Homo sapiens: one gene and its partners. The protein of the gene in region 1 interacts with the protein of each later gene in a biochemical or structural test. Each region holds a gene or a part of one and is shown on either strand. Other genes may lie near its edges.

The links.
Region 2: the proteins of PAX5 (region 1) and TLE4 form a complex in vitro, tested with the Homo sapiens proteins (2 studies listed by BioGRID).
Region 3: the proteins of PAX5 (region 1) and RUNX1 form a complex in vitro, tested with the Homo sapiens proteins (one study listed by BioGRID).

Annotation. Positions count from the first base shown.
Region 1 is NC_000009.12:37,010,248-37,017,270, forward strand, and holds part of PAX5 (paired box protein Pax-5), read right to left. Parts: intron 4,948-7,023; coding exon 4,750-4,947; intron 1-4,749. UniProt on the Homo sapiens protein: Transcription factor that plays an essential role in commitment of lymphoid progenitors to the B-lymphocyte lineage. Fulfills a dual role by repressing B-lineage inappropriate genes and simultaneously activating B-lineage-specific genes.
Region 2 is NC_000009.12:79,567,544-79,574,970, forward strand, and holds the start of TLE4 (transducin-like enhancer protein 4), read left to right. Parts: upstream 1-4,421; 5' UTR 4,422-5,247; coding exon 5,248-5,292; intron 5,293-5,633; exon of another isoform or gene 5,634-5,788; coding exon of another isoform or gene 5,789-5,827; intron 5,828-6,145; coding exon 6,146-6,243; intron 6,244-7,329; coding exon 7,330-7,393; intron 7,394-7,427. UniProt on the Homo sapiens protein: Transcriptional corepressor that binds to a number of transcription factors. Inhibits the transcriptional activation mediated by PAX5, and by CTNNB1 and TCF family members in Wnt signaling.
Region 3 is NC_000021.9:34,885,297-34,892,319, reverse strand, and holds part of RUNX1 (runt-related transcription factor 1), read left to right. Parts: intron 1-2,238; exon of another isoform or gene 2,239-2,427; coding exon of another isoform or gene 2,428-2,643; intron 2,644-2,848; coding exon of another isoform or gene 2,849-3,514; exon of another isoform or gene 3,515-5,207; coding exon of another isoform or gene 5,208-5,223; coding exon 5,224-5,477; intron 5,478-7,023.

The sequences.
Region 1 (7,023 bases):
AGCAGGACCCTGGCTGCCGTACTGCAGAGCACACTAGACGTTCCAACAGAGAAAGGAGCTCAGCATCAAACTCTTCCTATGAATAAGGAAACTAAAACCCAAGATGCTCAAATGACTTGCCCAGAATTGCACAGCGAGTCAGCCCAGACTCCCAGCCCCCATGCCCCAGCACTTTACTTTAAGCCACATTCAAAGGAAGCGCGGTCCCTCTGCTAAATACTTCCTATGTGAGGCATAAAAGCTATTTGGATTTCAAACCCACTTAGAATTTGAGGTTTAAAACTCTGAGGGACTTTGTGGCATTTAAGGATCCCATGGAAACATCACTCTTCCTTCTTTGAAAGGCTAGGCTTCTCACCATCATCCCACGCCCCCCGCCCCACCACCAGTCCTCACAAAATTACAGTGAAAGAGAAAATCATGGTGCCTTGAAAAAGGAAACAGGAAGATAAGGCTGAAGAAACACCCACATCTATGGCACTGATCAAACTGCCATCAGTGCAGTAAGAAGCTTGGGCCATCAGCTATGCCGAGAATTCAAAACCCAGGGGTCCAACTGTGCCAAGCTGCAAGGGGCCCCACAGGTGGCACCCAGGCCTGTGACTGTTGTGGAGAAGAAAGAGGACACAGATAGAGGTCGATGTGAGTGGATCACTTGAGTCCAGGAGTTCGAGACCACCCTGGGCAACACGATGAAACCCTATCTCTACAAAAAATGCAAAAAATTAGCCAGGCATGGTGGTGGCACCTGTAGTCCTAGCTACTTGGGAAGCTGAGGTGGGAAGATCACCCGAGCCTGGGAGATCAAGGTTGCAGTGAACCATGATTGTGCCTCTGCACTCCAGCCTGGGTGACAGAGTGAGACCCTGTCTCAAAAAAACAAAAAAAAAAAAAAAAAAAGAAAGAGGAAATGGATAAACAATCTCAGAAGGCCTGCTACCAAAATTAGAATTAAGAGCAGAACTAACAAAACATCTTCCCCAGGGCCACCTCCAGCCCGGGACAAGTTTTGTTAGCCTGCACAGTATATTTGTTTTTATTTGACTTAGTTGCTAATATTTTTAAGTTGGGAGATTTTTCATAAATATCTGAATTCTAGCTTCTCTTGAAAAATCAGAACACCCAACAATACTGGCCTCACGTTCTCACATGACCCAACCAGTTGGTACTAAATAGAGCTGCCCCTCTAAGCTGGGAGTGCCACTTGTACTCCCCACCCCTTGGCCACGGTGCTGGAATAGAAGAAGGAAGACCCCATTCAACCCACCGTTTGGGTCAGCTTTGGGATGGCCACCTCCAATGGACACTCAGACTGGATCCAGCGATCCCTGCAGGTTGTGCAGCCTCCCAGCACGTTTGTCCATAAGAAGTCAAATGAACAAGGTGATCTGTGTCCCAGGAAATCCCCCACAAGCCTAACAGAACTAGTTCAGTGATGCTTAACCCCTTGTCAGTCATGGTTTCCTAGGCTGGTCCCCTGGAAGGTAACAGGAAGTCACATACTCCTAGGGGTGAACCGTGGAGATGCCCCTGTGGCTATAAGAATAGCCACAAATCCAGCCATCACTCCCTCCCCAGCTGTTTGAAATCAGAAAGGGTGAAAAGTTGCCTCCAAGGGAGGCAAGGGCTGGGAGAGATGTGGACCCTCTTACACAGTGTCATTTGCAAGGCAGGCATTTAGAAGCTGCATTCATCTGAATGCAGTGGGAGCTTTGCCTTCATCTGAAAAATAAAACTGTATGCTGGGATGGCTCTGGCTTTGGGGGTTTAGGGGTGAGGAAGGCAGCCGCATGAGATTGTCCTACACTTAGTGAGCTGTCACTGAAGAGAGCAGGAAGGAGCCAGAGAATACTCCCAAAAAGGAGCCCCCAGTGAAGAGCACTGGAGAAGGCTAAGGATGAGAGAGGGCAGGCAGCCAGGCAGCAGAACGGGCAGCCCGCGAGGATCTGAAATGCAGAAGAAAATACTTGTCCTCCCTCTTGTCTCTCATCTCACAGATCCTCAGTTCTGTCACTCGCAGAGTCCTACAGGGCAGTGGTGGAAAGAAACTAGCCCTCCTTTTACCGTTGGGAAACCTGGGTTCTACCCCCATGTCTATCTCCAAGTCACTGTTCCTCTGCACTCTCCATCTTGGCCTCTGTTGCTACAACTGCCACAGGATAGAGTCAAGCCTTAAGGACTATAGGAGACCACAGACATGAAAGCACCTTAGAGGCATGGCCTGCCTGGCCATGGCTTTGGACTGGACACTCAGGACGCCCCTGAGGCTAGCCATGGCCCTACAGACAGCAGTTAGAAATTCCCCACAGCACAGGTCCAGGCAGAAAACATCAGCGGGCCCGTGATCTCTCTTGACCACACATCCCATGCCCCTTCACAGTCTTTGCCACATCTGTAACCACTGCTCTATTTGCCTCATACATTTCTTTCACATCACTTCAATTTTGACTTAAATAAATTTATTTTATAAGGCAATTGTAGTTCCCTACTGTAAGTGGGTAGGTGGGAGTGTTGAGGGGGAGTTCACAAACTCACTGGTTTGGTGTGTTACTTACGTTTTTCTAACATACATTAAAATAAATGTATTAGAAAACAATGTGCACCCTTGCATCTTTGCATTATAGAGGATGTAAACCGATGCTCTGTAAATAAGTTATGCTCATCCTGCAAGGCATTTTTAATTGAAATTAGTTGCCTCTGTTAAAAAAATATATAGATTAAGCTAGGTGTGATGGCTCACACCTGTAATTCCAGCACTTTGGGAGGCTGAGGTAGGAGGATTGCTTGAGCCCAGGAGTTCGATACCAGCCTGGGCAACATAGGGAGACCCCCATCTCTACATAAAAAAAAAATTAATTTAAATATAGAGATTTCACATACAGAAATATCCATGCATACATCTACACAAGCCCCAGCTTCTGCCTTCTCTTGAAGAATGCAAAAAATCTGGCAAACACCAGACCCATGGTCCTGGCAGCATTCGGCTGGAGCTAAGAAGCACTGCCCCTTTAATCGGACTTGTGCTGCCTAGCTTGCCAGGGACCCAACCTCTCCCCATCGTCTTTTGCCTGGCCTGCTTCCCTCATTACCTTATCTGCCTGGCCCCATGTAAGGCATTAGATTTTGTGACCCCCATGGACTACCTAAGGTTATCTTGCGAACCCCCAATTATATGTGTACTCTACGTTGGGAAACCTGTGGGTCCCCAAAGCCTGACCAGGGGTTTGGCTGATGTTCCTCTGCAGAGCAGGCCAGCTGCCTGTCATGTTGTTTTGTGTCGTGGAAATCCCGCAAAGAGCCAGAAGTAAGGGGCTCATAAAACACAATGGAGCCTCTTATAATCCATAAAAAGAACAGGAGTTATCCCCTCCTCCCCAAAACCTACCATCATCATTGCTATCCCCTCAGCAATTTTGTCCAGGTGCATCAGGCTTCTAAGTGCATGTCAGAACCCCACCCTGGACAAAGAGCCCCTCTGGAACAGACCAAGAAACTGTGTGCCTGATTCTCCTCTATCTCCCCTGTACCATGCATGATGTCAGGGCCTCTGTCAAGGTTTGCCAAGAGAAGAAAAACAGGCTAACAATTTACAAAATAGCAGGACTCAAAATGTGAACACATGCACTCCCACAGCGATCTGTGCATTTGAATCATCACAGAAGGATCCACTATCAGGACAAGAGGCTCTCATTCTAGTCTGACCGACCACCTCATTCTGCCAGGAGTGAGGGTCTCCTACGCCCACACAAGCTCTGCACTGATGATGGTAGGGTGTGATTTGGAGAAATGGAAACTGTCCAAGTTTTCAGGCTGCTCCCTTCTCTTTTCTCTGCAGAGTTTAGAGAACCATCATTTCTGTTCATCTCTGAACTTCATCCCTGACTCTTTGGGTTTAAATGGAGTTGAAATTTCATCATCTACAACAGAAAACTTTCTTCCATACATTTATTTTTAAAGCTCTGAGAGCGCCCTTCCATGTGTCTTGGATCAGACTGGAAAGGAAAGGGAGCTGTGTGGCTGCCAGGAAGATCCTGTGCATGACTCCCAGGGTGTTTCTCTGGTTCTTTCTCTCCCTGTGTGAGATTCCATGTATGAGTTGGGGAGAGGGCAACTCCTTTGCTCCAGAGCATCTTAGCCTCCTGGACAACACCTCTGGAGTTGAAGATGCACATCAGAACCACTGGGGTTCTGGGCTCTCAGAGAGAGGAAGAGCTTTGTCAAGGTCCCACTTTGAGCTTGTGGCAGAGCTGGAACAAGGAGCCAAGTCTCCCAACTCCAAGTCAGGTTTATGTTCCTCTCACTCACTGGCTCAAGCTCTGCCCAAACTGGAGGAAGGATTTTCTTCCTGGGAATCTTTGAGATGGGCCAGTGCTAAGACCTTGAGCCTAGGTTTGCAGGGACAGCGACATTTGTGAAGATCTAGTCAGGACAATTCACTGTGAAGTGTTCCACACATATAGGTGGGTGGTGAAGGGAGGGATGGAAATAACTCTGGGCTCAGAAGAAACTCGAGCGGCCAGGGTGTTGGCATGCTCCCCTCTCCCTGGGCCTAGGACTCCTACCTGCTTTGGAAAGAAGAGAAGGGTAACAGAGACCGAGCAGGCCCCATTAGCATCCCTCCTGTTCAGTAACCCCTAAGGGGCCTTGGTGAAAAAAGAGACCAGATCTTCAGGAAAGGCACATGCAGAGCCTCCAGGATGCCCTGCCATCCCTCCAAATCCCCAACCCCCACAGGCACGAGCCCCTCACCTGTTGATGGAACTGACGCTAGGCACGGTGTCATTGTCACACACCCGCTCTGCCAGCAGCCGGTCCCTGATCTCCCAGGCAAACATGGTGGGATTTTGGCGTTTATATTCAGCGATTTTTTCCACCACTTTGGGTGTGGCGACCTTTGGTTTGGATCCTCCAATTACCCCAGGCTTGATGCTTCCTGTCTCATAATACCTAGGACCCAAAGAGAAAGAAGCTTAGCCATGAGGAACCAGTAAAGTGGATATTGGCAACAAAATAACGGGCTACTCTGGCCAGGAAACGTCCGGATCTGCACGTTCCAATACAGTAGCCACCAGCCAGATGCGGCTTTTGAACATTTGAAATATGGCTAGTCTGAATCAAAATGTGCTGTAAATATAAAATACACACCAAATTTTTAAAACTTAGTACCAAAAGAAGTAAAATATCTCAATAATTTTGATATTAGTTGTATGTTGAAATAACAATTTTTATATATTGAGTTAAAATATATAATTAAAATATAGTACCTCTTTTTTTTAACTTTTCTTAATGTGCTGCTGGAAAATTTTAAATTGCATACACAGCTCTCATAGTATTTCTTTTTTTTTTTTTCAGACGGAGTTTCGCTCTTGTTGCCCAGGCTGGAATGCAATGGCGTGATCTTGGCTCACTGCAACCTCCGCCTCCTGGGTTCAAGTGATTCTCCTGCCTCAGCCTCCCGAGTAGCTGGGATTACAGGCATGTGCCACCATGCCCAGCTAATTTTGTATTTTTAGTAGAGACGGGGGTTTCACCATGTTAGTCAGGCTGGTCTCGAACTCCCGACCTCAGGTTATCCGCCTGCCTCGGCCTCCCAAAGTGCTGGGATTACAGGCATGAGCCACCACGCCCGGCCAGTCTCTCATTGTATTTCTATTGGACAGCACTGGCTAAGCATTAACAAAATTCTTTCACATTCATCTACCATTTTATAGTTTACAGAAAACTTTCGAGTCAGTTTTCCCATTTTATCTCCAACAGTTCTAAAGCACATAAATTGCTTTGAATTAATGAATGAGTGAATGAACAAATAAATGAATAGGTCCTGATCTACAGGTATAAAGCAGAGATTCATCAAGGTTAAACAGTTTTCCTAGGGTCACACAAGACCAAATGGGCAAGCTAGGGCTGTTGCCCACCCAGCCTCTTGAACTACAATTTCCCCAATAAGGTAGCTTACACTTTTGATTTGCCAGCTCTCCCAAGCCCTAGCACAATCTCCAGCATTGTATGAAACTGTCCCCTGAAATGCAACTTATTTTTCTGTAAGAGAAAAATAATAATCCTGGTGTAAAATTAAAAGGAATGTTGAATTGCAGAATTATCTGAAAATATCTGTTGTAAGTCAAAACTCAAGCAATCGGAAAAACCAACCACAAGTCACGGCAACTCTTCCAGGGACCTCCCCTGAGGTAAATGGCTGTTTCTAAGGACATTTCCATGCTATCAGCATTTGCTCATTAAGGAAAATAGGATGTCAGGGTTTTACAGTAAAACCAAGACCAAGAAGAAGAGTGTCATGAAACATCATTTCAGGGGGGGATAATTGACATAATTTCTTTTCTGAATCTGAGACATCACCAGACGTCTCTCTCAATATTTACAGAAGAATTCTTGATTTCCTTTTCCAAGGAAATTATCTTGCAGTTGAATCTGTTTTAAAAAACCAAAAAGACATTTTTTAAATGACTAATAATTTTGAAACCTAACAAGAGTTGATGATAGGTAAGGGAACGAGGTGATTCTGAGATGGGTAGAAAATGTTACCCAAGATGACTGGTCACATTTACAGAGATGCTGAAATTCTCAGCCTGGGTATGTTTGGGTAAGGCCAAGTTAGTGAATATCCTGAAAGAGATGAAATACTTTGGAAGCAGTGATGTGAAAGTGAAATGTCTGTTTTTCATTGAAAAGAGTGAGTCATTTACAAATTTTGACCATAAGGTAAAAACTCAACCTATCTTCCCTCTTTCTAAAAAATTGCTTTCAGCAATTTTTCTGTAATTGCCAAAAAATTATTACTCACAAACAACTTTTTAACAATATCCCAAAAAAACCAGATGGCTAGAAAAGCACCCTAAGTCAAGGCACACAGCAATCTCTGCAGTCTCCAATTGTCCTGTCAATTTTATAATGTAAAGCCAATTTTTACTATAATACAACTCACTATAATTCAGCCACAGCACCCTAAAGTTTACAGAGCTCTTCCTCGAATTATCTTGATCCTCACACTAACCCTGCAAGGCC
Region 2 (7,427 bases), about 43 Mb from region 1:
GGAATTGGATCAAAGGGAGATTGGTAAGAGGTAAAGAGAGCTCTAAATAATACAGAAATAGAGATATAAGGAACAGCTACTTACTAACCCTAGGGCTGAGATACAGCATCTCAAAAAGAGCTCCTCCAAGACACAGACACACTCTTAGGGCTGGCTGAGATCCAGACTTTGCTGGAGAGGGCACAGTTGTAACTTTCTGAATAGCAGGAGAGCCCTGCTAGAATTCTGCCTTCTGGAACTTGCTAGAAATCCACATTCCAGAACTCGTTGGAAATCCATTCTCTGGGGTTCCAAGGAAAGCTGCTGAGGGAGGTGACTCATTAGAGGCACTTGCTCCAAAGCCACCTAAGGGGCTTCTGGAGGAAGCTGCTGGCTGCTGGGTGCTGCTGCTTGCTACCTGTGCTGTAGGAACCTGCCCAGTATGCAACCAGAGCCAGGAACCAGGAAACCAAACCCTTTCCTCCTGCAATGTCTCTCCAGCGCCTTCTATTGACCTAGCTTTTTTAACAGCTGGAAAATATTTAAAGGGCTCAGATTCAGTTTCACTAGGCAGGCAATGAGGATGAATTTGGAGCTAAGAGGCAACATATTAATAATAGCCACTTTTATTGTGAAATCCCCATATTCTGGCACATAGTAGGTTTAATAAATATTTGGTGAAGTAATAAATAAATGATTTACATCTAACCAAAGTGAAAAGCATGCTTGGCATATGTCACTTCAAGATTGGAGCTTTCAGGCCTAGCTTTTAACATGAAAGTTGCTGCCAAGTGCCTCCCACATGAAAACTCTGGAACACCCCACCTACCCCCCACTCTGTGGTAGGGATAAGACAGGCCTCCAGATAACATCATAGCTTGGCTCAACAGTTAGCGAGAAGTGCAATGAGAGAAGCACAGCAGAGAAAAGGAGAAAAAGTGGCCATGAGCCCCACTTACAGTCTGTGTTACGGCTAGGGCTGGGCCGCCAGTTGCTGCATTTGCATCTTTCTGAGACATTGAGGTGAGTTACATAGCTCTGCCACGTGGCCAAAATGTGAAACACATCCAAGGGCTATATTTTAATACAGAACTTAAAAAATAAAGAAACATCTTGACTTCTCTAGCCACTTTCCTGTTGACACAAACCATCGAGAGAGATTAGGGGAAAGATCCTTGCTATAAGTGATCTGATATTTCCTAACAGAGCAAAGTTTCCTCTTTGTCCACTGACCCTTTCAATAGTTCTTCGGGTTCTATTCTTAGAATTCTCGTTTCCTGTCCTGAGAGAAAACTGCACAGAATTTCAATAAATATGACCCAAATGATGTGGAAACTTCCTATAAGGATGCAATGAGGTATTCATTCATTAATGCCATCAACAAATATTTACTGAGCACCAACTACCAGACAGTGATGGCAGACATAATTTGGGGAGTTTGGAGTGCAACTGTGAACACAACCAGGTCCCTGTTCTCATGGAACTTGCTAACATTCTGGCTAAAATAGAGAACATGGAACTTCCTACAGAGGCACTGTGGGTGATTTCACAAACCATTGAAAAGCTCTAGTGGGAGCAAGCAACTAACCAACCTTAGAATAAAACATGGTTGTTGCTGGTGTTCTTAGAAACTTCGCTGTCCTCGTGTGCAAATTGTATCACTAAAGTCTTCTCACTTTTGATTCTTGGGAAGGTTTCAGGGCAGGGCTGTCTAATGGAAATATGTAAGCCTCATAATTTAAAATCTTCTAGGAACAAAGTTAAAAAAGTAAAAAGAGGCTGGGCACGGTGGCTCACGCCTGTAATCCAAGCACTTTGGGAGGCCGAGGCGGACGGATCACCTGAGGTCAGGAGTTCAAGACCAGCCTGACCAACATGGAGAAACCCCGTCTCTACTAAAAATACAAAAAATTAGCTGGGTGTGGTGGCGCATGCCTGTAATCCTAGCTACTCGGGAGGCTGAGGAAGGAGAATCGCTTGAACCCAGGAGGCGGAGGTTGCGGTGAGCCGAGATCGTGCCATTGCACTCCAGCCTGGGCAACAAGAGCGAAACTCTGTCTCAAAAAAAAAAAAAAAAAAAAAAAAAAGTGTGTGCCTGCAGTCCCAACAACACTGGAGGCTCAGGCAGGAGGATAGCTTGAGCTTCAGAGTTTGAGGCCAGCCTAGGCAACACAGGAAGACCCCCATCAATACAATAAATAAATAGAAACAGACAAAATTAATTTTACTAATATTTTTAATTGAGTTATTCAAAATATCACAATTTTGACATAATTATAAATTATTGAGCTGCAGTTTTTTCACATTAATTTTTTCAAAATGCCACATATATGTGTACTTACAGCACATCTCATTTTGAATTGGACACATTTCAAGTGCTTAACAGTCACATGTGGCTAGGTATGGAACAGCAGAGGTTCAGAAAACTGTCAAAAGGACTTCTCTGTCCTCTTATTTTGGGGATGGAGGCGAAAATATTTGCCGAATTGAAACATTCTGTGAACTTTGGCTCTGGGTTTTTAGTATGAAATTAGAGGCAGGTGAAGACCACCATAGCCTTCCTTTGCACCAGCTCACTACAGTGGCCAGAACGGAAGGAGGTTCACAGAACGTGCTAGGTTGGACATTAAGTCACCGAGTCATCCACTGAGGAAAGGGATATCATTAAGAAGAATAGTTTTCCACTAACGCCGAACCGGCGGCACCATCTCAACCAACAGGTCAAGTTACAGTAGGCAAGCACGCATAGAAATAAACGTCTAAAACCCAGCCTGTTACATTAGCCAACACTCTTCTTGACTTTTTCCGAATTTTTTCCCTGTCCCCAAGATTAGCCGCTCGCTAGAAAAGACTGCGAGCCTCAGCAGCCTCCCCTTGAACTGGGGCGCTGCCTCCAGCTGGACACGGACTAAGGATGGAAAGGCGCACTGACGGAGGCCGCCCCCATTTCCCAGGCCCCTCCCTAGGGGTGCCCCTCCTCAGCCATGGCTGCCCCTTTCTCTCCTCCTCCAGCATCTGCCCCTGGGGCCACCCCCACCTTTCCGCCATCTCTCGGGCCCGCGTGGCACCCTGCTCTGTTTTTAACGGGGATAAACTTGACTTGCTTCTCCAAAGAGCGGGAAAAAGAGGCGCAGTCTTGGTACTGATCTGGGGGAGGGAACGTCCCAGGGCGCGCAGGGGCGTTTTCTACCCGTGCCCCGTCGGCCTGCTCTGTTCAGTACCGACCGTGTTCGGGGTTCACGTGGCCCAGTCGGCAAAGTTTCTTTGGAGGTCCAGCGTCTCTGATTCCCGGATCTTCAGCCCCACCCGGAGCCCCCACGGTTACTGCCCCCCGCGACCCCCGATGGAGCGTCGGGATGCGCTTTCTCTCCGAGTGCCTCCGGGGGTGGAGGGAGGGAGGCCTGTTTCGGAACTAAATGGCAATCACAGCCCCCGCGGGGCTTGGAGGGACGAGCTCCCCGCCCACCCCGCGGCCCCGGCCCCAGCCAGCATCTCGCGACTCCATTTCTGGCTCTAAACAAGAACGGGGACCGAGTCGCGTTCACACGGAAAATTATGCCGGCTCCAGCGGCGCGTAAAATTGATGTGAACCGAACGAAGTAAGATCAGCGTGATCCTCCCCCTCTTGTCTCAACAGGGGTTTCGGCGCGTTACACAAGGCCGAGCTTGTCTCTTTAAGGAGACATTGGACCCTAATTAGTCCGCATTCCTGGCGCGGCTGCGGAGCGAGGGGCCGAAGGTGTCTGGGTTGGGAGACGGGTGGGCGGGAGGACGAGACTCGGAAGAAGATCTTTTGACCAGCCCCCAGGCTCACCGCTCCCTCCACCCTCTTTATTTTGCCGCCACCACCACCACCACCACCAACACCTAATTCTGAAGATGCAGCCAGGGCAGCAGCAACAGCAGCAGCCGCCGATTCTCCCAGCCCCACGTTACTTTGATTGACAGCTGAACAAATGTTTTCCCGGTTCGAACGCTCGCGCTAAGGAACGTCAGCCAAGGCGAAGCTCCGCCTTGGGCGGGCCATCTCCGCCCCGCCTCCGCCAACCTCATTCCTCTTCGTTAATTGGTCGGAGCTACAGGCGACGCCCGGCCCCCACGTGGGTTTCAGCTGGGTTGGCTCCTCCCCGCTGGCTTGCCATTTGTCAGCAGTGAAATGATGGGCACTAACACAGAACGGCGATTAATGTTCAGCCACCTCTGATTGGTTGGTGGAGACGCCTACCGCAACGGGGGTGGGCGGGGCGCTTGGAGAGCTCGCCAGAGCGCTCGCATGGCGGGCCGGTGATTGTAGTCAATCTGGCCGTATTCTCAGGCAGGGTCGCCCGGGGCGGACTACATCTCCCGGGATGCTGCGCGGCCGCCCCGCGGAAGATTGTGAATATGTATCAGAATGTTAATGATTAGCTGCTGCTAAATTTGGTCAAAGAAGTCACCTACACAGAGCGTGTTGTTAGAGCTGTGCTGAGCGGGTGTTTGGGTTGTTGGCTGCTTTCTTCCCCCTTTCTCACACACTTGTATATTATTTTGAGGTGGTGTTCGCAGAGTTTGAAAGGAGAGAGAATTAAAAAAAAAAGCCGCAAGCGTTTCACTCTTTTATTTTTATAATCCCCTTCAATTTGGGGTTAAAAAAAAGACAAGAAAACAGGAAGGAAGAGAAATAAGGAAATGAGATGTGGTAAAAGAAGCTAAAAGGTGCCTTTTAAAAGATCGTTGCTGTGAAGTGAAAAAAATCTCCAGAGAAACCAAAAAGCACCGCCGAGACCTCTTCCGAACCAAAGGAGTTTGTGTTTGCTTTTAGGGAAGAAGAAAGATCATTCATTCGGAGGAATAACAACCAATTAAAAGACAAATAAAAAAAGTTTGGAGTGGGACGCAGAGCGAGCGAGAGGAGCTGCCGGCGGGCGGTGGGGCGCGGAGCCCGCACTTTCCCGGCCGGGTGAGCGGCGGCCGCGGCGCCGGGCTCGGCGGGTGCGCCTCGGCGGAGCGAACGTCGGAGCGTTGCCTTGGGAGACGCGCGCCGGACAATGCCCGCGGCGGGCCAGTGACGCCCGCGGGGAATGCGGAGCGGCCCGGCAGCCGGCACCCAGCCGCCGCCGCGCGTTCCTGCCGCCCGTGTCACGCGAGACCCGGCGGGGGCCGGGACCGCCCGAGCCGCCCCTCAGACCGAGCCGGCCGCCTCCGCTGCCGCGGCCGCCTCCTCTTCGGGGTCATTAAAGCCAATGAGCCGCGCGCCTCTGCCGAGCGCAGCCAACTAAATCGGCTTGGATGATTCGCGACCTGAGCAAGATGTACCCGCAGACCAGACACCCAGTGAGTGCGGGCGGCGGGGCGCGGGCTCGCCGGGTGCTGGGGGATTCCCCGCGTCGCCCCCTGCGCACCGAGTTGTGTCTTTTGGCCGGAGGGGCGTGGAGAGCCGCCCGAAATCGGCGCCCCGCGCCGGGAGCAGCCCGCCCGCCATCACCCCCACCCCCCGGCGCGGTGGCCCTCGGAGGGGGTGCGGAGAGGCAATTGAGTTGTAGCCATTTTCTTATTGTTGTCTTTGAAGCCCCTGGAAGCCGCGCCGAGCCGTTTGCGGTCCCCGCGCCGCGACTCCTCGAGGGGGGGTGGCGAGCGATGAAGGAGGCGCGACTCCGCGCCCGGGCGGGGAGGGCGCCCTCGGCAGCGGCGCTGCTGGGCTGGCTGCGGTTTGGAAGTGCGGGGCGCCGGCCCCTCGCGCCGCGGGCCGCCGGGGCGAGCGGGCGAACGAACGAGCCGAGAGGGTGGCGGCCGCCTCCCTCCTCCCCCGGCCTGACCGCAGCCCGACGCCATGGCGCGGGTCCCCCCGACGGGCCAGTTTCGATTCCGGGTGAGGAGGGAGTGGGCGCGGCGCGCGGGTCCCTGGGTGCCTGTCTTTGGCCGGGGAGGGGAGACGGGACTCGAACCCTCGGGGTCCGGGGCGCGGGGGCCTGCGGGCGGGAGTATGCGGGGCCCCAGGACCACCTCGAAACCAGCCTCTGCCTGGGCTGTTGGGCGCGAGGAGGGTTGCGGGAGGAGAGTTTTAATCTCTCTTTGCTTGCGTGCGCGATGACCCTCACCCCCCGCTAACGCCGCATAGTAGGTTTTCTCCGTCTCCCTGCTTCGCCTGTGATGTGGGCTAATTAAATATTTTATTGTTGTTCTTCAGGCACCGCATCAGCCTGCTCAACCCTTTAAATTTACAATTTCCGAATCCTGTGATCGGATTAAGGAAGAGTTTCAGTTTTTACAGGCTCAATACCACAGGTAACGATATTGACTTTAGCTGATCCTTCTGTTTGCTTAGCTCTTGTCTCCCCGACAAATACACACAAACACTTACCCTCCTCCTTTTTTGTGGGGGCGTCACAAAGGTATTATTTTTTTTTCTCGGTGGGCAGAAAGGGCAAATCAAGGCCTCCTTCCTTAGGCAGGTGTAAATAAATTAAACATTTCTTCTACCGTAAATAAAAAGAAGGCAGAACAATCGAAACTGGGGAGACTTGGAAAACGCTGAGGCCAAACTTTCGATATTGATTTATTGGGGCCGGGAGAATGAAAGGTTGGGAAGATTCTGGGGCCTTTTGACATCCTTGGTTCTTTATTACTCCGGACTTGATTCCTTCTCACTTTTTTCTGCCATTCCACTGAAGAGCTGAGAGCCCAGGGAAGTCGGAGTGAGCGATTTCATTACTTTTATGCTAAAAAAAAAAAAAATGTTTTCATCTTATAGACGATTTTTAGACTTAGGGTGCCTTTGAGACATTTTTCTTTAGCTGGCTTTTTAATGATGCCTAATTCTTATTTCATAAATGCAAGAACCAAAACAAACCACTGAACCCGATTGACACTTTGCCCCTGGGTGGTGGTATTCAACTTGTCTGTGTGTTTTGGAGGGAAAAAAACAAGATATCATTCATAAGACATGCTTGATTCATATTTTCATTAATCTCTTTGTAGAACATTAAAGAAATTCCCTTGTGACGTTTTGGAGGACTTATTTGTGCTTGTATGTGCAGTCATTATTGAAGTTTATTTTCGTGTTTGTTTTATTAAGTGAATATTCAATTCTGGAGGAAGTTCCTGAATTAAACTGATTAGAGGATTTGTTTCCTTAAAACTTAATTAAAAAAAAAATCCTAAAAACAAAAAACCACATATATGATCCTTATTGAAGGGGCAAGTCCAGACTGGTTCCAATCACCCCTTTCCCCTTCCCTTTCCATAATGATGGGGGTATTTATTTAAGATTGTTGATTTAGTTGTTTGTAGGTGAGATTTAGAATATGCGTTTAAGAGTTGAAGGATGTAAGTTAAGATCATTGTACTTAGAGTATCTTATGTCTTGAACAGTCTGAAGCTGGAATGTGAGAAACTCGCCAGTGAGAAGACAGAGATGCAGCGGCATTATGTCATGGTAAGAAAACCATGTCACAGATTCAAAGTGCCTA
Region 3 (7,023 bases), on another chromosome or scaffold:
AGAAAAAAATGTTTAATTAAATTCCAATGTTCAAAACTGGATAGTGTGTATGGCAGGTGATTTGTACATACATGTTACTCTTCATCAAAATTGTTTTCCATCCCTGTGACATCAATACAAACTGCAGCTATTTGGTTCCAAACCATAGCAAGATACATTCTATTTTTTAAAATGTAAATGGTCATTTAAAATAGAAATAATTCTTTTAGACGTACTGCATTTTTACAAATGTGATTTTGGAAATATATTGCTCGCAAAGGGTAATTTTAAGAGAATTGTTGAGATTCTAATCCCATCTTTATGCATATTTTGGGGAGGCTTTTGAAAGAGCAAAAAGGTAAAAGATTTAGTTATCTTCTGAGACCACCTATAGTTCTTTACCTAAAGTTGTAGAAGAAAAACGTCAATGCACTGTTACTGTTTTCCAATGAAATTATTTTTCTTCCAACTAACCAAGCAGTACTTTTTAAATCCACTGCAGAAATGTACATTTCATTCCTGTTGTGAGCCGTTTTCAATTCTCCTCCCTCCCTCTCCCCGCAACAAAATTTGGAAAAATCTGTCACGTAGCATCCGCCCAACGTATCGCTTCGTTGTATTTTTTTTTTTTTTAATTTTGCATTATGACAAAAGTAAATTCTAGCATTACTCCAGGGAAACACTGGGAATGAACCTGGTAATGTTTCCTTTCCTTTCTCCCTTAGGCAAAGGAAGGGGAATTCTGTATTGTCGCTAAAATGAGCGCTCTTGGTGGAAAGGAATTCCTCACTTCGTACACGCTGTGGCTGTCCTTGAAAGTGCAGGCTCCGTAAAATGCCCGGCCGACTAAGGGGTTCCCTTTCCCCGGAGCCCCTGCCTCTTTCCATTCATTTTAGATCCTCAGTAAGGAAGGGCAGAGGTTGGTCTGTTTCTTCTTTTCAAGAGGGCACCGCGCTGCGCAGTTAACAGCCTGCGCCGCTCCGGGGAAACCCAAATGTCCCGCGATCCCATCGAGTCAAGGAGCAAAAGCTGTGATTGCTATCAGCTTTTTGTCGGGCTTCAAACTCGGGGTTTATCGGTTGAAACTCCTAGCTGAGCAGCTCCCACGACGCTGCCTCTGACGGCTAAACTCGGTGCATGCAAGGCTGGGACCAACTTTCCTTACTCGATAAAGGAACTTGACTCCCTCCTGGGAGACCGCAGCCCGAGTCCGACTCGCAGCCCCCGTCGCGGGGTTTAGGGTTTTAGGCAAGCGGCCCGAGACCCAGAGGAGCCTCCCTGGACCTTTCCGAGGGGCAAATCACCCGAGTCTGCTATTTCCCCTGGAGTCAAAAGCCTACTTTTGGAGCCGCCACACCCTCGTGCTCCCTCCCGCATCTCGGGGGTTCCGGGGGATGCACGTGGGGGTGGCCCCAGGAGCCCTGGGTGGGATCTCGGGGAAATGCATTGGAGACCAGGCGAAAAGGTTTCCCTTGCCCAGAACTTGCCTCTAGAGCGGGCCGCGTCCGAACCCGCAGGCAAAGGCGCTGCGGCCCCTGCGGGCGGGCGGGCGCGCGCGATGCACTCTTCTCAGGGACAGAGTTAGAAAGTGGACGTTTGGGCGGGGGGAGGGGGGGATTTACAACTGGAATTAGGCTTAAAAAAATCATTTTAAAAGAAAAATGTAGTAAGTTTTCTTTCCGAGACCCCAGGTCCATTAAAACAAAACTGAACTCGGGTGCTGGCAGTGCCCAGGGGGAGCGGAGGCGGAGAGGGTTGAGGCCGCGGGCCGCCCGCCTTAGCCCCCCGGAAGCCCGGGCTCCTGAAGCACAGATAGCCAAGAGCGGCCCGAGTCAAGCCCCAGGAACAGGGGCTTCGGGAAGAGACCCCGACCGGGCCGCACAGCGGGGAGGCCTGGTCCGAGAGTCCCCACCTGGCCGGCTGCGACTCTATATTGGAACCTCGGAAACGCGCCTTGGCCGTTCCAGCTCAAGTGGGCTCTGGGGCGGCTTCCTGTCTTTTATCCTCGAACGCTAGTTCTTCCCGGGCGACCCGAAGGCCACGAGGCGGGCCGCACAGCCCCGCGCCGTCGGGGGCGTTCCGGGAGCTCCGGGGACTGCGCGCGGCGTCCAGGGAGGGCGGCTGCTGCCCCCTGGCGTCCGCCAGAGCCCGCGGCGCGTCCCGACAGCTCCGCGCAGTCCGGGCCCGCCCGGGAAAGGCCTCCACGCCAGTCAACCCCGGCCCCCTCCTGCGTCCGGGCCCGCGGCAACGCCCGGGGACAGTCCCTGCGCGGCAGCGGCCACAGCACCCTAGCCCTGGGGGAGGGAGGAGCGGGCGTCAGGGGCCCCGTGAGGTCGGCGAGGGACCCCCGCGCCGGGGAGCTTAATTGAGGGGCTCCGCGGGGACCACAAAGCAGCCCGCGGTGGAACGGGGCCGGGATCCGGGGACTGGGTTGCAGCCCCGGGGTGGATGAGAGGCCCCGGGAGGTGCAGGGCCCGGCAGGGAGGGCGTGGAGGGACTCATGGTGACGGGAGCAGCCTCCGCTGGGAGGGAGCCCCGCCGGGCGGGGTCGGAGTTGGCAGCGCACGCCGGACCGGGGGCGGGGCCCTCCGAGCTCCGCGAAAATGCCCGCAGCACCGCGGGGACCGGCGCAGGGGGAAGCGGCCGCCCGCACGCGAAGCCGGGGTGGGTTCCGCACCTGGGGCCGCTCGAGCGCACGGGGGCGGGGAGAGGAGCGGGGGCCGCTTCCGGGGAGCCGGAGGGGAGACGCGGGGCCCGGGCAGGCTGTCCGGCTGCTGCGGGTGCCGGCGCTACAAGGCCCGGGAGCAAGCCGCGTGGCTGCTTTCAACTTTCCTTCCAGCCGCGCGTTCTTGGGGTCTTTCCTGACTAGGAAACTCTTCGCTGGCCGCTGACGCACGCAGCAAGTGAGACGCGCGGAGGGATCGAGCCGCGGCCCGGGCGCAGCGGTAAAAAACACCCATTACAGAAACCGACCCAAGGGAAGACGCTGAGAGCAAACGGCACGCGCGGACGCCGTCCGGCCTCATGCAAGGAATCAGCGCCGCTTCGCCGCAGCTGCCAGCCGGACGGTGCAGGAGCGCGGAGTGGCTCCCCCGGGCCCCGCGGCCAAATCGCACCCCCGCCCTGGAAGCGGAGGCCTGGCCCTGGGCGGCCGCGCAGGATCTGGGGCCGTCCGCGGGCTGCAGCCCGGTTCGGGAGCCTCGTGGCGGCCACTGCGCCTGCCTGCAGCGGCTCGCGGGGCCGGGCCTCTCCGGGTGCGGCGCGCCGGCCGGGTCCTCCTCGGGCCGGCGGGGCCTGCTTTCTTTTTCCAGGTCTCCGGACCGTGGCCACTCGCGGAGCCGCACAAGCCTGCGTGTGGCTGCGGAAAGGGGTCCGCACGCGGGCGGGGCCCCGGGCCAGCATGCAGGCTTGGATGCGGGGCGCGGGGGTGGCCTCCGACTCCCCGCCCGGGCTGCGTACAGTAGCGCGCGGCGCGGCGGCGGGGGCGCGCGGGCCAATTCCAGGAGCCGGCGGCGGCGAGCCGCGCCCTGGCTGATACCGGAAAGGCCTGTGATTGGCCGCCGGCCGCCCCTATGCAAACGAGCTGAGGGAATGGAATTCCTCCGGCCGGGCTTACAGTAAAAGCACGTTCATTTCCAGGCACTCTCATTCATAGAGCCAGCGGGCGCGGGCGGGACGGGCGCCCCGCGGCCGGACCCAGCCAGGGCACCACGCTGCCCGGCCCTGCGCCGCCAGGCACTTCTTTCCGGGGCTCCTAGGGACGCCAGAAGGAAGTCAACCTCTGCTGCTTCTCCTTGGCCTGCGTTGGACCTTCCTTTTTTTGTTGTTTTTTTTTGTTTTTCCCCTTTCTTCCTTTTGAATTAACTGGCTTCTTGGCTGGATGTTTTCAACTTCTTTCCTGGCTGCGAACTTTTCCCCAATTGTTTTCCTTTTACAACAGGGGGAGAAAGTGCTCTGTGGTCCGAGGCGAGCCGTGAAGTTGCGTGTGCGTGGCAGTGTGCGTGGCAGGATGTGCGTGCGTGTGTAACCCGAGCCGCCCGATCTGTTTCGATCTGCGCCGCGGAGCCCTCCCTCAAGGCCCGCTCCACCTGCTGCGGTTACGCGGCGCTCGTGGGTGTTCGTGCCTCGGAGCAGCTAACCGGCGGGTGCTGGGCGACGGTGGAGGAGTATCGTCTCGCTGCTGCCCGAGTCAGGGCTGAGTCACCCAGCTGATGTAGACAGTGGCTGCCTTCCGAAGAGTGCGTGTTTGCATGTGTGTGACTCTGCGGCTGCTCAACTCCCAACAAACCAGAGGACCAGCCACAAACTTAACCAACATCCCCAAACCCGAGTTCACAGATGTGGGAGAGCTGTAGAACCCTGAGTGTCATCGACTGGGCCTTCTTATGATTGTTGTTTTAAGATTAGCTGAAGATCTCTGAAACGCTGAATTTTCTGCACTGAGCGTTTTGACAGAATTCATTGAGAGAACAGAGAACATGACAAGTACTTCTAGCTCAGCACTGCTCCAACTACTGAAGCTGATTTTCAAGGCTACTTAAAAAAATCTGCAGCGTACATTAATGGATTTCTGTTGTGTTTAAATTCTCCACAGATTGTATTGTAAATATTTTATGAAGTAGAGCATATGTATATATTTATATATACGTGCACATACATTAGTAGCACTACCTTTGGAAGTCTCAGCTCTTGCTTTTCGGGACTGAAGCCAGTTTTGCATGATAAAAGTGGCCTTGTTACGGGAGATAATTGTGTTCTGTTGGGACTTTAGACAAAACTCACCTGCAAAAAACTGACAGGCATTAACTACTGGAACTTCCAAATAATGTGTTTGCTGATCGTTTTACTCTTCGCATAAATATTTTAGGAAGTGTATGAGAATTTTGCCTTCAGGAACTTTTCTAACAGCCAAAGACAGAACTTAACCTCTGCAAGCAAGATTCGTGGAAGATAGTCTCCACTTTTTAATGCACTAAGCAATCGGTTGCTAGGAGCCCATCCTGGGTCAGAGGCCGATCCGCAGAACCAGAACGTTTTCCCCTCCTGGACTGTTAGTAACTTAGTCTCCCTCCTCCCCTAACCACCCCCGCCCCCCCCCACCCCCCGCAGTAATAAAGGCCCCTGAACGTGTATGTTGGTCTCCCGGGAGCTGCTTGCTGAAGATCCGCGCCCCTGTCGCCGTCTGGTAGGAGCTGTTTGCAGGGTCCTAACTCAATCGGCTTGTTGTGATGCGTATCCCCGTAGATGCCAGCACGAGCCGCCGCTTCACGCCGCCTTCCACCGCGCTGAGCCCAGGCAAGATGAGCGAGGCGTTGCCGCTGGGCGCCCCGGACGCCGGCGCTGCCCTGGCCGGCAAGCTGAGGAGCGGCGACCGCAGCATGGTGGAGGTGCTGGCCGACCACCCGGGCGAGCTGGTGCGCACCGACAGCCCCAACTTCCTCTGCTCCGTGCTGCCTACGCACTGGCGCTGCAACAAGACCCTGCCCATCGCTTTCAAGGTACTGGCCCGGAGAGGGTGGTGGGAGGACAGGCGGAGGCCGGCGAGGCCGGGGGAGATCCGCGAGGGCAGCGGCCAGGCGGGCGGGGCCGGATTCTGGAAAGGGGCCCCCGCAGCCCCGGGTCGGTCTTCCTAGCTTGGGATGTGGGGGATGCTGTGTTGCCGTGGCGACCCTCGGGAGGCACTCGTCTCAGCTTTCTGGGGCGGCCTCCCAGGAGGGCTGAAAACATCAGGGTGTCCCCAAAGATATCCACTGGGAGCCGGTCGGGACCTCCCTGGCAGGGGCCTTAGCTTTGATACAAAGTAGGAAAAGTTATAACCCAGCCCGGCAGAGACAGCCCGTCTGCTAACTTACTGCTGCCCCTACCGCTGGATTAACACCCAAACCATTTTGTCTTCCTCAGATGAAAGGATCAGGAAATAAAATAGTAAGACTTTTCTGCCTTCAAGTCAGTGAAAAGAAACTAACTAGGGAAACTGTCAGGGATTTTTTTTCCCCTTCTCTAACCGCCCTATAGGAATTAGCATGTCCAAAGTCCACAGCGGGCGTAGTTAAGTTTGCAAAAGTTTTCTGAAGAGTTCTCTGAGCTTTTTAGCCTGCTCCTGCCAGAAGCCGCAAGTATCGAATCCTGTTTCTTTTCCCGGAACCGTTCTGAATGCTATCATCAGCTCACCTAGATTAAGCCAGGGGTAGCGAAAGGTGACGAGGCTGTTTTCGGAGAGCCAGGGGTCCCAGCGGCCCGCTTTCCTGCTAGAGGAGGGGGCGGCGCGTAGCCGGAGACTTCAGCGCGGCGGCTCCAAAGATCTCCCTTCACTTTTCACCCCTGATCATCCCCAAAGCTTTGAGCTGCCTTTAAAAACCTTGACCTTCAACAGGGGTATGAAAACAACCCCAGGCGTTTCTAAACAATCACCCTACTACACTAGCAGCAAGCAGTAGGAATTTAATTTCTGCAGTGGAGATTCTGTTTTGTCTTTGGTGGGTTTGAAAAGATGCGACTAAGTAAAATCAGTGCGGGTCATTTCCTGTTCGTTTAAAGGGCGAATCAAGGCAGGTGGTTCCAAGTGTAAAGATAAGCTACTAAAAAAAAAGTTTAAATAATTGTCCCCTTTAAAGGGAGATTAATTTAATATAAGCTTTTTATAGTTCCAAGCCTCAGCTGGGTCTTGATCTTATTACAACGACGAATATTCACTTTTTAAAAAAGTATTGTTGCGGTTATTTTTAAGCTTTATACAGTTTCCACACTTAGATTGTGATTTCTAAAACAAAACGAAATTTGCAGTTGGCTGTGTCTATAGATTGGCCTCTTTTTCCACTCACTTTTCTAAAAGCAGTTTTTTTTGTTTGTTTTGTTTTTTAGTGGGGGTGGAAATGAGGAGAAGGAACGAAGGAACGTGGTGGCTTGCTTGACTCTTTTTTCCCTCCCTCCGTTTACTTAGATTTGGGTTTGGGAGACCATTTTACTTTTAAATCATTCTAACCCTTTGCCTAAATGGACTCAGCGATGACTCTTTAGGGCACCCGCATTGAGAGGGGACCCAAC